2 separate regions of the Homo sapiens genome follow, and region 1 is linked to region 2. A link means that fine-mapping ties the variant in region 2 to the expression of a gene that starts in the linked region. Tissue or cell type: cerebellar hemisphere. Region 2 holds a variant in brackets; the other region holds the start of a gene. All regions are shown on one strand. Distances are between the middles of the regions.

Evidence for each region. PIP is the estimated chance that this variant, and not a neighbour inherited with it, causes the effect.
Region 1: it holds the start of TRPM3, and the variant in region 2 is fine-mapped to the expression of TRPM3 in cerebellar hemisphere (GTEx, PIP above 0.99). The same link has a PIP of 0.9 or more in cerebellum.

Annotation. Positions count from the first base shown.
Region 1 is chr9:71,117,880-71,125,680 of GRCh38, reverse strand. It overlaps TRPM3 (transient receptor potential cation channel subfamily M member 3), which reads left to right and starts at 4,060. Exons shown (of 26, transcript NM_001366145.2): 1 at 4,060-4,503. The coding sequence starts at 4,327. RefSeq lists an enhancer at 4,415-5,252.
Region 2 is chr9:70,637,431-70,645,231 of GRCh38, reverse strand. It overlaps TRPM3 (transient receptor potential cation channel subfamily M member 3), which reads left to right. Exons shown (of 26, transcript NM_001366145.2): 10 at 4,572-4,672; 11 at 6,038-6,172. Among named protein-coding and RNA genes, the nearest start is that of MIR204, 170 kb to the left of the region's middle. The variant C/G (reference allele first, on the strand shown) is at 4,716.

The DNA of each region.
Region 1 (7,801 bases), 480 kb before region 2:
CTATTTTAAAGATAATGTACACCTATGTTCATTGCAGCACTACTCACAATAGCAAAGACATGGAATCAACCCAAATGCACATCAATGATGGACTAGATAAAGAAAATGTGCTACATATACACCATGGAATACTATGCAGCCATAAAAAGAATGAGATTATGTCCTTTGCAGTGACATGGATGGAGCTGGAAACCATTATCCTCAGCGAACTGACACAGGAACAGAGAACCAAACACCGTTATGTTCCCATTTATAAGTGGGAGCTAAACAATGAGAACACATGGACACAGGGAGGGTAACAACACATACGGGGGCCTGTTGCAGGAGGAGAGCATTAGGATAAATAGCTAATGCATGTGGGGCTTAATACCTAGGTGATGGGCTGACAGTGCAGAAAACCACCATGGCACACATTTACCTGTGTAACAAACCTGCACATCCTGCACGTGTATACTGGAACTTAAAGTAAAATAAAATATTTAAAAAAGAAAATTCAAAGCACAACAAAATTAATAAAAGAGGCCAATCATTAAGCAAGCAAGACGTTAATATTAAGACTACAAAACACTGAAGCAAACGAAAGTGTCTACAAAGGCTCACCACTGGGCTTGTTCCTGGTTTTTCCCCTGGTTGCTTAAATATCATCCTTCTGCACTAGGTGCACTACATCCATATATTAGAGCCTGAAAATATATGTACAATTGATGTCCAGATACCTATGAATTTTAATGTTGTAATAATAAACTCTGAAAAATTACATTGCAACACTGTTATTTTAGTGTTGTTTGCAGAAAACACATTTCAGAGGGAGGCTTTTGAGTTCTCTGTACTACCTGGTCACTGTGTCATTTCCTTTTTGTTTTCTTAGGTTTTCATGGGTCAGCTCCTTTTACATCCAAAAGATATAAAGAAGACAGGGTGCAAAGTGGTACAATACTATATTGAGGGTGCTATGACTTTTGAAGAGAAGGAACGTGGTCTTCAAAAGAAAGAATTCAGAAGGGCTATACAATGGCCGCCTTGTCAGTATTGAGAATGAGCTCAAATTTCATCATGATTCTTTGGTTTCGTATCATTTACACAGAAAATAAAAAGGGAAGATAATCAGTGGAAAGTGGGCTTTTCTGTAGCACGGGAGAGAATTAGAGTTGGCTCAAAGGCAGGCTTTGGAATACAGAAATCTGATATGCCCTGCTTGCTATTTTTTAGGATACTGAAAGCTAGTATGATTATTTCAGAGTTTTAAGCCTGCTAGAATTTGTTCTGCAGATATGTAGACATCTACATTCATAAGATTTATAAGTAAGCACTTTGAATTTGTGAGATGCTAATATCTGGGGCTGGGCTTGCTCCTCTCTGCTTTTTTTTTTTTTTCTCATTAGACCTCTCTCTAAAACTGGGGAAGGCATCTTCTATGTGAAAATATAATTTCTTGAAAGTAGAGAGAAGGGTCTTGAAAACCCTTCTTTAGATGTTTTGATAGCAAACAATTCTGGCACAAAGCGTCCCCAGTGATGGAAGAAAAACTGCCTCTCATGCACTGTCATCCTTCTTTGATCTTTTACCTCTTTTGCAGTGTAATCTCCAAATCAATTCCCTGAAGGTTTTGTGCTTTTCTCCTCTAATTGCCATTAGAGAGGGCTGTGAATCCTCCTACTTCCTCACTCTGCATAGTTTCTAACAGTTCTCTTTGACCAAAGTTATTCAGTAAAATTAAAGGGGATAGGATCAAAGGCCATGTGTTTTCAGAATGATGCTGTCATTTTTGTGGGGTCCTTAGCATTTTGAAATACTGCAGGGCAGGGGGTAGGCAATTGCAGTTTTTCAGCATTTTCATGGAGCAGAGATCTCACCACCTCAACAGAACCACTTAAGGGCGTTCATTTAAAAGCTTAGAAAGGCTGGAGCCTTCCCCACTAAAGGCAGCATCTCGCAACTGGATGAATACCACACTGCATGAGGAAAACCACGCTGCCCTTGCAGTCTCCCACCTTCCTCTTTACCCCATTTATTAAACTCATAGTAACTCACAAGAAGCATTCAGTTTTAATTTGTCTTGCTTGACTTCATTACCTACTACCATATGTATGCATGCTTAATGAAAATTGTCAGTGGGCTTCCAGCTCAGAATCAGCACATGCTACCCAGAAGATGGATCATGGTACAGGTATTTAGTATATGCCAGGCACTGTTCTAAGTGCTTTGCCAATATTAGCTTATTTAGTCCTCACAACAACCATAGGCATAAGGGTTTATTTTAATCTCCATTGTACGGATAAGGACTCCAAGACACAAAGAAGGTACGTAAATCTCCCAAGACTAGCTTCAAAATTGGAATTTGAACCATGCAGCTTGATTCCAGAATTCATGCTGTTAACTAATACATCAACATCAGACCAAAGTAATAATCTGAAAGAAATGCTGAGCGTTTCTTCTTTAAAGTCTTTAACTCTTATGTAAGATTAAATTACCAAAAAACAGAGGCAGTGGTTTTATTCCTGAAGTCCCTTTTGAAAGAAATAGGAGACAAGAGAAAGCTTGTCTTTACAGCCTAGTAGACTGGTTTCAATCCAGATTCCAGTTATACTAGTATGTTAGACTTGTTACTAATTTCTCTGGACCTCACTTGCTTAATCTGTGAGATAAGAAAATGACCATAACACCTACTCCATAAGGTTGACATGGGCATAAACCTATGCAATGCATTGTGCTAGGTGATACATGTGAGCCGTTATTATTTTAATACTGCCTTCAATCCTTTGTGGAAATAGAATAGTAACAGAAAATGAATCAGCTGTGTATGAGATCTATTAAAGTGATATTGTTTGGTAGATAATCAGAGACATAAATTTTACTATACGAGGTAGGTCAATGGTCTGCCTTCCACCCGTGGACTAGTTTTCTGCAATATCTTTCTTAAATTTTTGACACAAGACCATTGTGAGTGAAATGGTGTTGTAGCGCAGTGTGTCAGGTATTGATTTCATGCTGGGGTGGGCCTGTGTTGTCCCGGTTCTGAATTACAGCAGTGTATCACATCTGCTTGCACCACTCCCAGTTCAGCTCTGACTGCATAATAGTCATGGAGCTGGGATTTACCAATCTCTTCAAGTTAATTAGAAATGGAAAATCAGCATGGTCACAGAGGAAAAAATAAATAAGATGGCGATGCTCCAAGGATGTGGGGATTCTCCCCATAGGAGTTGTCAGGTCAACTGCTCCCACTGAGGTCCGATGCCTGGGGGTACATGGGAGCCGAAGGGGGGTTGTGTCAGGAACTCCCTTCTCATCTCACCGTCCCAACTTACTATGTGAAATTATCCAATTTCTACCTTCAAATTGAAAAACTGTCCTTTAATTCTCTCTCTCACCACAGGAGTCCTAAAGACTATACATTCCAACTCAGCAACTATTTCATACAGCCTCCTTAGAAAATGATGGGGGTGGACACCCCACTTGAGGAAAATCCATTCTTTATAGACAGCATCCCATGTGGCACTTTATGGGTTAAACTTGTGTTGCAGAGAAGCGGTATCAAGTGGCTTTCCAGGAGATAACCCCCATTTAAAAACTGCCATCTCTAAAAGGTGAGCCAAATGCCCATGAGTTTAAACTGCTTTGTATGAAAGGAACAACCCAGTGTGTTTGAGTTTGCTTCTGTCTCAGTGTCTGTCATCTATGCAACCGATTATCAGGATGAAGACTGTCAATCACGGTTAATAAAAACCTCAGAACACGACACAGATCTCTTTTACTATAGATGTATTTGATGATAGCCTCACTTTATTATGTCACATAAATCAAAAGGGAAGCATTTATCTCATCATTCGGAGGCACCCCTTCTCTCCCTGTGTCCTCACCCCTCCCCCCGTACCAGTTCTCAGTCCCTCAAAGATGCTTTGTGCAAGAAAGTGCAAGTTTCCCGTTCTGGCTTCATTTTTGTTCCCTTTTGCGATCCTCCTGGCTCCCCCCCAAACCAAGCTAGCAAAGCAATGGCCCCGGTTCCCCCCCAACGCCTGACCTGCGTTTACTGGGAGGAGAGCGGGAGAGGGAGCGCGCATTCTGGAGCAGGCTGCTTTGACTCCGACCACAGGCTGTTTTGTGCAGGCTGTCCCTCTTCTTCAAAATCGTGCATCCCCTCCCCGAAGCAGCAGGCAGTGTGCCTCCATTCAGCCACATTTGGTATGCATGAGCACGGCTGCAGAGAGAGGGGAGGTGGCTGTTTTAAGAAGGTTCAGGGGCTCAGGCAAGGCTACTTGACTAGTCTTCCAAGTTCCAGGAAGCCTCTGCCCTAATGGAATTTGCAGGTGTGGAGATGACCATGGGATGCCAGAGCCGTGGGGGACCGTTTATTTTCTAGGCATTGCTCAGGTTTTCAGTTTCTTGTTTTCCTGGTGGAATTTGGAAGGGGTCATGAATCAGGCTGATGCTCCTCGACCCCTAAACTGGACCATCCGGAAGCTGTGCCACGCAGCCTTTCTTCCATCTGTCAGACTTCTGAAGGTACTGTAACTTGCAGCTTTGAATGGCGCTAATTGTGCTTTTTAGATTTAAATACCCAACTTGGGGACTTGGGCTGGGACGCACCTTTGGGGGAGCCTAAATGCATGCAGTACTGGCTCTGTGGTCCGTGGCTGGAGAGAGGTTCTCAGTACTCCTGCCCTCCCCCCACGCCCCCCACCCACACCCCGTGGTGTCAGAGACAAGAGGCTGGTGCGAACCACACTCGAGAAGGAGATTTTGGTCTCAGAGAATGGGCTACCTGGTGCTCCCCCACCCCTTTTAACCATTCCTAAAACAGAATTAATTAACTTCTTTGGGAGGGTGGGAATAGTAGTGGGAGTGAAATCTCTTACTCCCTTGTGTTTGGCTCCTGGGCTTTTCTTTCTCTCTCCCTGGGGAAGCCCTTCGACCCACTTTCCCTTTAAATGGAACCAGAGAGAACAAAGGATTCTCCTCATTAGTTTAAAAGCTTTGTGTAGTTAGGTGGCCAGTCAGGTGAAGATGAACAAAGAATGAGCCTCCTCAGACAGTGACTTTTTTTGTGTCCTTGTTTTTAGAAAAGGCATAAAAATGTGAGTCTCCTGAGTGGAATCAGTAGTGGGAAAGTATTGTTAAACATATATTGAATGTCAGCTCTCTCTCTAGCTGTGAGTCACACAAAAGAATGGCACTACACCTGAGCAGGAATTGCCACCGTGTGTCTGCAGCGCTTCTCTTTCCAGAAGCAAATGCATTAAAGATACTGAAAAAGTCCATACAACTCTGTACTAATCCACCTTCATGATCTTTCTTGTAGGGGGGAAAACACAAATTAGATTTAAAGGTGCAGGAAACAAGCATTTTTGCCCAGTAAATAGAAGGTGGTAATACTTAATAGGGAAAAATAAATATCTCTGATGTTCTATATCCATTCGAAGTTAAAAAAGGCAAAGTTCTTAATTCTCTTTTCCTGAGTATGTATGCTCTTTTGATTTAGTGACCACAGAGCATTGAGTCCAGTGGGCTACAATGGAGAATTAATGAATTAGCCCTGAATACGTTACACTTGGAGAATTTTGTTCTGAGGATGTGTTCTGGTTAGGTAAGATTTGATGGGGACAGTTAGTTCCATACAGCTAAGTGGTGCCTCACAACAGAGTATTACCCCTTGCCTGAGTTTTCCTTTTCTTGTTAAACACCAACTGGTATTAACTTTCAACAAAGGCTGCCCCAAGTGCTGTTCAAACTCCCATCATATGGTTGTCATGGCGATGGCTTGCTTCCCTAGGGACTATTTAGGAGGAAAGGCAGGTTTGGGTATGGGTAGTAGAAGAGACTTTTCCTTGGATATGTGTGTTTTTGCTGTGTTGTAACAACATGTGTGATAGGGCAAGAAAAAGAATGAGGCCAGAGAATTAACAAATTGGTGTACATTTTCTCCAGAATCACTAGTGAATCAAGAGTCAGGGGCAAAGAATGGGCATATCTAAGTCTCCCTGAAAGAATTCAACTCCAGTAATTCGAAGTGCAATGAGAAACATTTTTTCAGTTAAAGTCATGTATCAGCTTTAACCCAAAATAATGCTTTTTAACTCTTCTTGACAGATAGGTGACTATCACTCTCCATATATGATTAATTAATATGCTAGTTTTTTTTTAAATGGAGAATGTTATTCATTTACTAGTCACAAAACCAGCAGAGAAGTACCTACCTGAGGTACTTCTTTTAGAAGAAGCTCTGTCTTTTTAGGAGAGTGAGTTCTGTCATCTTTTTTAACTGAAAGTGCTGTCCATACTTTCAGGAGACATTGTTAATGCTACAGCCATACTTTCATTGGCATACAGCTCAATCTTACCATCCTTTATTAAAGTGATGCTTTGTAATAATTTATTGAATAAAGTGCATTACTGTGTGTCCTTCCCATTTTTTCAATATCTAAAAGACAGGATGGAACCTTACTGGAGAACTTTTTTCCCAAATGACATCTGTATTTTTGAAAGATCATAGCTATCTTCTGAGACTTCAGATATTGAGCACATTTCAAACTCTTAAAAAAATAAAGTCATACCAAGTTCTTTCAGCAATACTTAGAAAGAAAGCAAAGCTGCTTTGGTATATGAGCAATTGTATTGTCCACTCTCTGGCTGTGAATGCTATGTATTTTTTTCCTATGGATTGTTGTATGTTTCTCCTATGGATTCCTGTGTTTGCTTTGCTAGTTCCTATGTATTCTTGCCATTTTATCTTTTGAGTAAAATGTAAGTTCATGAATAATAATTTGCATGTTTTGGTAAATGCTCTTCCTGGCTTAATCTAGAAATGAAATATTTAATAACAGTATTTCTTATGTCCTTTCCTTTCTTTCTCCTCCCTCCCTTCCTCCCCCTTCTCTCTCTTGTTCCACCTCCCTCCATACTACCACCACTATGTTAATTTGATGAATGGATTCTCTAGGAATCCAGTAGATTATTGAAATCTTAAGGTAACAAAGCCAATTCTCCTATTCAACAGGTAGTGCTTATTCCTCTTCCAAGCATTGTTCTAATATGACCTGCCCTCTCTCAGTGCCCCTACCTGTCAGTAAATGCAGTGTAGGTCCTGATGGCTTGATTAGATTTAGCTAAACTCTGATCAGTCACCATTTCTGACAGACTGGACTCAAGCCAATTTCCCTTTCTATCCTTTTCCTTGAAAATGTGTGTATCTTTGCTAACTTCCTTTGGTATCACGTTAATATTTAGAAATGGCTTCATAATCCTATTTCCTTATTTTCCATTTCCTAATAGAAACAGGATACAAAAGAATTAGAAGGGGAAGGCCGATATCTGAAGTATGAATTAAACCCAATGAGTGTTGGAATGTACTTATTATTCCTCCTGAAAGCATCTCATTTGTTGTTTTGTCCATCTCAGAGCAATTTTTGAACATGCCAACACACTCACATTTTGAATTTGGGGTTGCATTTGGAAATAAAACTTGGAAATGAATTTCTGGACAGGCACACAATGATGATAGCCAAAAGACAGAGCCTGTTTTCAAATGGGTAAATTTCAAATGGGACCCTTTCTACATCATTTCTCTTCTGTTGTCGTTTGCTTTATTCTTATGTGTTTCAAGATTGCATCTTACTATTAATCACAAAAAAAGTCAAGTTTATTTCAGTGACAGAATGTTCTTAGCATATTTCATATTCATTATCAGGTCTATCTTTGCCATTGTTTTATTTGGAAGATTTTATTTTGGTAACATGTTGAATTCGAAGATTATTTTTAGGGCAGAGAGCTTTCTGTGTATTGAAGTCTTGGCGAACTTACTGAA
Region 2 (7,801 bases):
TTTGGTTCCATAAGAAACTTAAGATAGTTTTTTCTAATTCTGTGAAGAAAGTCAATGGTAGCTTGATGGTAATAGCATTGAATCTGTAAATTACTTTGGGCAGTATGGCCATTTTCACAATATTGATTCTTCCTATCCAGGAGCAAGGAATGTTTTTCCATTTGTCTGTGTCCTCTCTTATTTCCTTGAGCAGTGGTTTATAGTTCTCCTTGAACAGGTCCTTCACATCCCTTGTAAGTTGTATTCCTAAGTATTTTATTCTCTTTGTAGCAATTGTGAATGGGAGTTCACTCATGATTTGGCTTTCTGTTTGTCTATTATTGAGGTATAGAAATACTTGTGGTTTTTGCACATTGATTTTGTATCCTGAGACTTTGCCAAAGTTTCTTATCAGCTAAAGGAGATTTGAGGCTGAAACAATGGGGCTTTCTGAATATAAAATCATGTCATCTGCAAACAGAAACAATTTGACTTCCTCTCTTCCTGTTTGAATACCCCTTATTTCTTTCTCTTGCCTGATTTCCCTGGCCAGAACTTCCAGTACTATGTTGAATAGGAGTGGTGAGAGAGGGCATACTTGTCTTGTGCCAGTTTTCAAAGGGAATACTTCCAGCTTTTGCCCATTCAGTATGATATTGGCTGTGGGTTTGTCATAAATGGTTTTTATTATTTTGAGATACATTCCATCAATACCTAGTTTATTGAGAGTTTTTAGCATGAAGGGGTGTTGAATTTTATTGAAGGCCTTTTCTGCATCTATTGAGATAATCATGTGGTTTTTGTCGTTGGTTGTCCAATGACTCCATATTCAGCCCTCATTTCAGGAGGGCAGCCGGGCCAGCAGATTGCTCCAGCCAATTAGCAAAATACTTCTATTGTGGGGACATGCAAGGTCGGGTAGCCAGAATGGTTCTGCTACATTGATGTGTTTGTATAAGCATAGGTCCCACATACCCTAGGAGTGGCACTGCTCCTTCACAGCACTTCTACAATCTGAAAGTATGCTGTTCATGAGTTTATTTGCTTACTTCCGAGTACTTCCCCACCACCAGTAGGATGTAAGCTCTGTGAAGAGGTTGACCTTAGCTACCTTGTTTGTCATTGGACGTTCAATGACAAATCAGTTCCCAGCAGAGAGAGTATTCAATAAATATCTGTTGATGAGATAAATGAATTACTGCATGAAATAATGTATTTAATTACAGACTTCTCTTCTCCTCTAGACTGTAAGCTCTCAAGACAAAGTATTCTGCTTTATATGTCTCGGTCCTCATGCTGGCATACTGCCTCCCATATAAGGAGGCATGAAATCAGTATCTTTGAACGCATAAGTAAATGAACAGATGAATGAGTGAATGAATGAACATATGCTATCTACACTAGAAGTTCTTAATTTTATCCTCACATTAGAATCATTGGGGAACTTTTAAAAACCGCAATGCCCAGGACCAATTAAACTAGAATCTGTGGGGCTGTGCCCCAGGCATGAGTATATTTTAAAGCTCTTTAGGCAATTCCAAGTGCACAGCCATAGTCGAGAATAGGGTGACCAGCCACTAGGTTTATTCAGGATTGACACATCTCCCAGAGTGCAGGAATTTAAATGCTAACACTGTGACTACACTGGGCAAGCCTGGATGGCTGGTCACCTTAGCCGAGAACCACTGATCCAAACTGTCACCCACGGCCATTCTTGAGTGATGTATTTTCAATTTTTGAAAGTCAAGACTCATTGGTTTCATGCTTTCATTTGACACTTGCCTAATTACATTCAGGCCTGTAGCTCACCTTGACCTCAATAACTGCTTCCTGCTATGTGTTCCTGTTCAGGCTCGTGCTGCTATTATTGACTTGGGTGACATACTAATTTGCAACATACAAATGGCAAAGGGAATGATTAAACTATTCCAGCAAGTCAGCACCAACCAGTAGACCAGCTAAAGAAGCAAAGAAACATGTAAAGTGCTACCTTTCCAAATGCAATCGCAATGAGCCTTCACTTCTTTTCCTCTCCAAATTGATGACAGAACATTTTGACACATTTCTACTTATCACTTGTGTATGCCAGTTACCCTGGTATGAGTGTGCAGTCCCTGTTGTTACCTGAGGAGATAATTTTTAATGGAAAATTCCACGTGAGAGCTGAAATGATATTCATCATTGTAAACACTAATAAATTTACTCCAAGTATGTGGTCGATAATAAGCCCATCAATGTGTGGACACCAGAATCAGAAATGCTCTTCAACCTACGAAGGGAACAGAGCACCACAGCTCTTGAGGGCCTTGTTACTCAAATCATGGCCCCAGATCAGCAGCAGCGGCCTCACCTGGGAGCTGGTTAGAAACACAGAACCTTAGGCTCCACCCAAGAGCTACTGAATCACAAGGTCTGCAGCTGGGACCCAAGAACCTGTGTCTTAAAAAGTTCTCCGAATTGTACTTATGCATGCTAAAATTTGAGAAGTGTTCACTTAGCAAACATTTTTTGCCTAATTTATAACGTCAGTATCTCAGAGCCCAGAGGGAAGAGGCGAGGGTAAGCAGGAAAGGAGGCACACAGCGCAGTAATTCCCAGCCTCTGGACATTGGCTGCACATTGGAAGCACATGGAGAGCTTTAAAAATATCCGCGCCTGGATCCCATCCCAAGCAACATGATTTAATTGGTATGGGATGCACCCTGAGCGAAGCTCCCCAGGTGATTCTAATGTGCAGCAAAGTTTTGGAATCACTGATGTAAGTTAACGACCAGGAACCCTGCCCCACCTCCTCATTGTTTCTGGCCTTGACTGCTGGCGAACCCAGAGGAATGAACAGCATACACATTTGCTATATTTCTTTCCTAAACATCAGAAGCAGCAATGATGAAGAGGAATTCTCTGGATCTGACTCTCACCTCTAGTTTGCTGAATACTTCTTCCATTTACCCTGTTAGTAGCTGTTTTATCTTTGGCTGTTCCACCTCCCTGGATCTCAGTAGTCTCATATGTTTCAATGAGACAGGAGACAATAAGACCCAGTCCCCAGATTAACTGGGATGTTACATATGACATATGGAAGTGCCTAATACTTTGCCCAGCACATGTTTGATGTTTAAAAACTCTGAGCTGAGGAAGGTTGTCTCTTTATCCTCCTCCCCGATCGTGAGATATCCAGCAGCATGAAGCTTGGCAATTATTTAGGGGTGTCTCTTCCTCAGTGCACTAAGGGTGTTGGTGAACTGTGAAAAACCTGTTTAAACAGAAATCACTTATACAATCTCATTTCAGTCTCACACCCCAGCCATGTAAACTGGATATTTATTGCCTCCATTTCACAAATAATCAACAGTGGCTGAGAGGAGCCACAGGGACTCTCACTTGGGCCCCCTGCCTGGAGCCTAATGTTGCTTTCGTTACTGCACTGCCTCCATTTCCAGCTTCCCCTCCAGCTGCTTGGCAGGCTGCCTCTATGGACAGGATGCATTCACCTAGATGAGCTCTGGGCCAATAGCACTTACTGTGATGATAGAAATGTTCTGTATCTGTGCTTTCCAGTTCAGTAGTCACTAGCCACATGGAACTATTAAGTTCTTAAAATGTGGCTAGCCTGACTGAGGAATTATAACTTTAATTTTATTTAATTTTGATTAATTTAAACTTAGCCACCTGTGAACCGCACAGCTCTAGAGACAGAATCTGGAGAAAAATAAGAACCTGGGAAATAGTTCCAATGGTTTCTACCCACAAATCAAAGTAAACCTAAGCCGCTGGTTTGCCTCTCTGTTAAAAGACCTTCCTAACTCTTTTTCAGAAAAGTGGCAAGTTGGTACGCTAGTTGATGAGAGCACCCTCCCCATGCAAAATACTATTCAAGTGATGCCTTGAAACCAGTGATTGGCCAGCAGAAGCAAAATGTGTGGTAGAGCAGAGTTTCTCAAACTTGAGTGTGTGCACAAGTCATCTGGGATCTTGTGAAAATACGGATTCTGGTTTAGTGGGTCGGGGACAGGGTCTGAGACTTGCATTTCAAAGAAGCACCAGGGTGGCACTGCTGCAGCTGCTCTGTGAACCACACTTTGCCTAGCCAGACGGTAGAGCAATGCTGCTCACCAGGCCAGTTTTGCCTCCCTTCACACATGGGGGCATTTGGCAATGTCTGGAGACATTTTTGAGCATCATGTCTGGAAGGATGGGGGTGGGAAAATGCTATTGACATCTACTGGGTTCAGTCAAGGCGTGCTATTAATAATCTACAATGAACTTGTATGCATGCATCAAAATATCACATGCATACCATAAACATGTACAATTATTATATATCAAAAAAGCATGGAGTTTCAAAGACCTTCTTTTTAAAAAGTTTTTAAAAATGTAATAATAATAATAATCTACAATATACAGGAGAGCCCTGTGACAAAGAGTTACCCAAAATGTTAATAATACCAAGTTTGAGAAACCTGCTGTATAGCCAAGCAGGCTCTTTGGGAATAGGGGCATTAATGGCAGAGGGATGGAGCAGGCGCTCTTGGTGTAATAACTGATCGTCGTTTTCTCTCTTCCACTCTTTTCTCCCACTTGTCCTCACACAGGAGCCAATGCCTCGGCCCCAGACCAACTGAGCTTAGCTTTAGCCTGGAACAGAGTCGACATCGCTCGCAGCCAGATCTTTATTTACGGGCAACAGTGGCCGGTAGAGTATATATCGTCTCCCATGAAAAGCCCACTTTGGTTGG[C/G]CAAGGGTATTTGTTTAAGGAGCCTCTGAGGTCAGCTCAGAAAACGATTGCTTTTTCTTTAAGATGGAATGTGTTCCTTGGTAGCAAAGTCTGTATCCTGAGCTCCCTTTCTCATATTTAGGAAAGCACCGCCATCTAGTGGAAATTTCAACTGAACACAACTCCAAATATTTCCATCTCTATGAGTTGTCTTTAATAGCAATTTTCAGCTGCAAATGATGCCATTTATTTGAATACATCTGAAAAAATATAAGACAAATCTGTATTAACTAAAATTAAGGAAGGGGTAGAATTATTAATTTGCTTCTGATTGTCTTTGATGGGGCAAAGGGAAGGGTCACACCTCAGGATGCAGAATTAGCAGGCTTCCCTCTGCAGGCGCCATCTGGTCCTGGTGACTGAGCACAGGTCCTCCCTATTTGCAAAGAACAACATGAGGAAACCAATGCTTTATATAACTGTTCTTGGTTTGCTTCCCTCAATTGACTCTACCAAAAATAAAAATTTGAGAGATTGGCCATCAGGTGGGATATGTATGCATCCACAGGAGGCAGCCCAGCAGCCTGAAACTCGGTTTCTGTGCCTGGAATCACAGCACTCACCGGCAAGCCTTATCTTACTCCTTCCTTTCCCCTAGAGAGTTTCTGCCTGGGATGGAGCCCCTGTCTTCATTCAGTGCTGGTGGATTGCTAACATGGAAAGATTTGTCAGAGTCTAGACCCTGCAACATTTTTGTGAAATGGATTAAATAAAAATCTAAGCTATTGGCAAATCCAGAAAGTAGGCTGGTTGTTCTGTTTTGTTATGTTTTTGTTTTGTTTTCAGTTAAGTGACATCTTTGTGGTCTTGCTTCTACAGAGACCCAGCATTGATTTAGGGCCTTTGGTCTGTTGACTTGGGTCCCTCTTCTCAAGTTGGCCTGGGGTCTCCCTCAGAGCCTAAGGATAACAAAAATGAAGACAGCAAAAGTGCCCCCTTTGACACTTCGCTGGTGTTGAGAAATTTAATCAGATAATTGCAAGGGGAAAAACCTTGTGAACCCTTGCACCTTCTTGGGATCCAGAACAAGAGATTCAGGGAAGAAATAGTTTTTGGAACTAGAAATGCTTGACTTCTATTTGCAAAGACAGGCACCCAAACATGGGAGAGGTGTGGCTGTCCCAAAAGTGAATCTGTGAACAGTCTTGCTAGCATGTTCTTAGATGTGCTGAAGGTTTACCAGATGTCAAAGGCATCCATTTCTAAGCTGTTCAAGTGAACACTAAAGAACTGCATCCATAGATAGACCCTGGGGCAGACTAACTCAGTGACTTGGTTTGCAGGTGGGATCTCTGGAGCAAGCCATGTTGGATGCCTTAGTTCTGGACAGAGTGGATTTTGTGAAATTACTCATAGAGAATGGAGTAAGCATGCACCGTTTTCTCACCATCTCCAGACTAGAGGAATTGTACAATACGGTAGGGCCAAACTAAGGCACTTTTTATTTTCTTTTTTTTCTGTTTGTTTTACCTTCTCCTGCCCCCCATATGCCTGTGATTCTCTTCCCTTCTCCCGTCCAAATGCATGGTTCATTCATCACAAATACTCCCTTAGACCTACATAGATGACAAACACCAAGTCACCAAGATTCCGCTTGTTTTAATTGCTCAGTTGTCAGCATGTAAGGCAAAAAGTTATGTAATAACCTAAGTGTATCATTCTCATATTCTTATACAAAGCCACAAGGCTCTGGAAATGAGAACACAGTTTGTTCTGTAAGCCCAGAGGGTGTTAGAGGCAATTAGCAAAGGAGGGTTGGTTTAACTCTAAGCATCACAAAAGGCTGATTAAGTAACCTGCGCCATTTTTTATCCTCAGAGCTATGAAGTTCATTCTTCATAGTTCAGCTATAAAGTGGAAGAAAAGGTAAAATATCTCTTTTTTGAGTCACTCAAAAATTTTGGTTTTGTTTTGTTTTGTTTTTTAGCTTAGTAATGATTTGTTAATTTACTCACTAGGGATACCAAGGAGTAATCATAGGTAAAACTACTGTTTATGAAGTTATTGAGAGCATTCACATGAGTTAAGTGCATTGGCTCTGAGCTCATACTAAAATCCAGTGAAGTTTAAAGAGCAGAAATTTTTCCCCATTTACCAAATGAGGAAACTGAGGCTGTCTTAGTCCATTTGTACTATGATAATAAGATGCCTTAGACTCAGTAATTTATAAACAACAGAAATTTATTTCTCTGGGTTCTGGAGGCTGGAGAGTCTAAAATCAAGGCTCTGGCAAGTTCAGTGTCTGGCGAAGGTTGCTTTTTGCTTCCAAAATGGCACCTTGTTTTGCCATTCTCCAGAAGGGACAAATGCTGTGTCCTCACAAGGCAGAAGAGACAGAGGGCAAAAGGCCTGAATGTTGTGTGAAGCTTCTCTTATAATGGCCTTAATCCCCCTCACAAAGGAGGAACCCTCAGGACCTAATCACCTCCCAAAGGTCCCACTTCTTTTCTATTATTATTATTGTGATTATTATTATACTTTAAGTTCTGGGATACATTTGCAGAACGTGCAGGTTCATTACACAGGTATACACGTTAAAGGCCCCACTTCTTAATACTAGTACATTGGAAATTAACTTTCAACATGAATTCTGGAGAGGACACAAACATTCAAACCATAGCAGAGGCCAAGGTGAATTCAAGGTCACAAAACTCCTAAGAAAGCCAGTAAGTACCGAACCCAAGCTTCTGTCTCTAAGATTATTCTACCCCTCATTTTTCACAATGCCTCTGTCCCATCACGCAGAGGGCAAGCAGGATGGAGCTTATTTCCTGTCCCCAGCCAGTAGTAGTTGTTAGATGGTGCCACGCTGGCACCATCTGCAAAAAATAGAAACGGGTTAGCAGAATGTCTCCTAGTCTCTGTTTTCTCCAGAGACTTTTCTTGGTTCAGCATACTGAGACTTTCAGGAAGAATAATGGGTTTTCAATTAAAAAAAATAAATAAATAAAGACAAGCATTGAATGGTCTATCAATTAGAGAATCAAGGGAGTAATTTATTCCAAAGACTGGGGAGTGGGGGTGGGTAGGAAAATTCTAGACTGAGG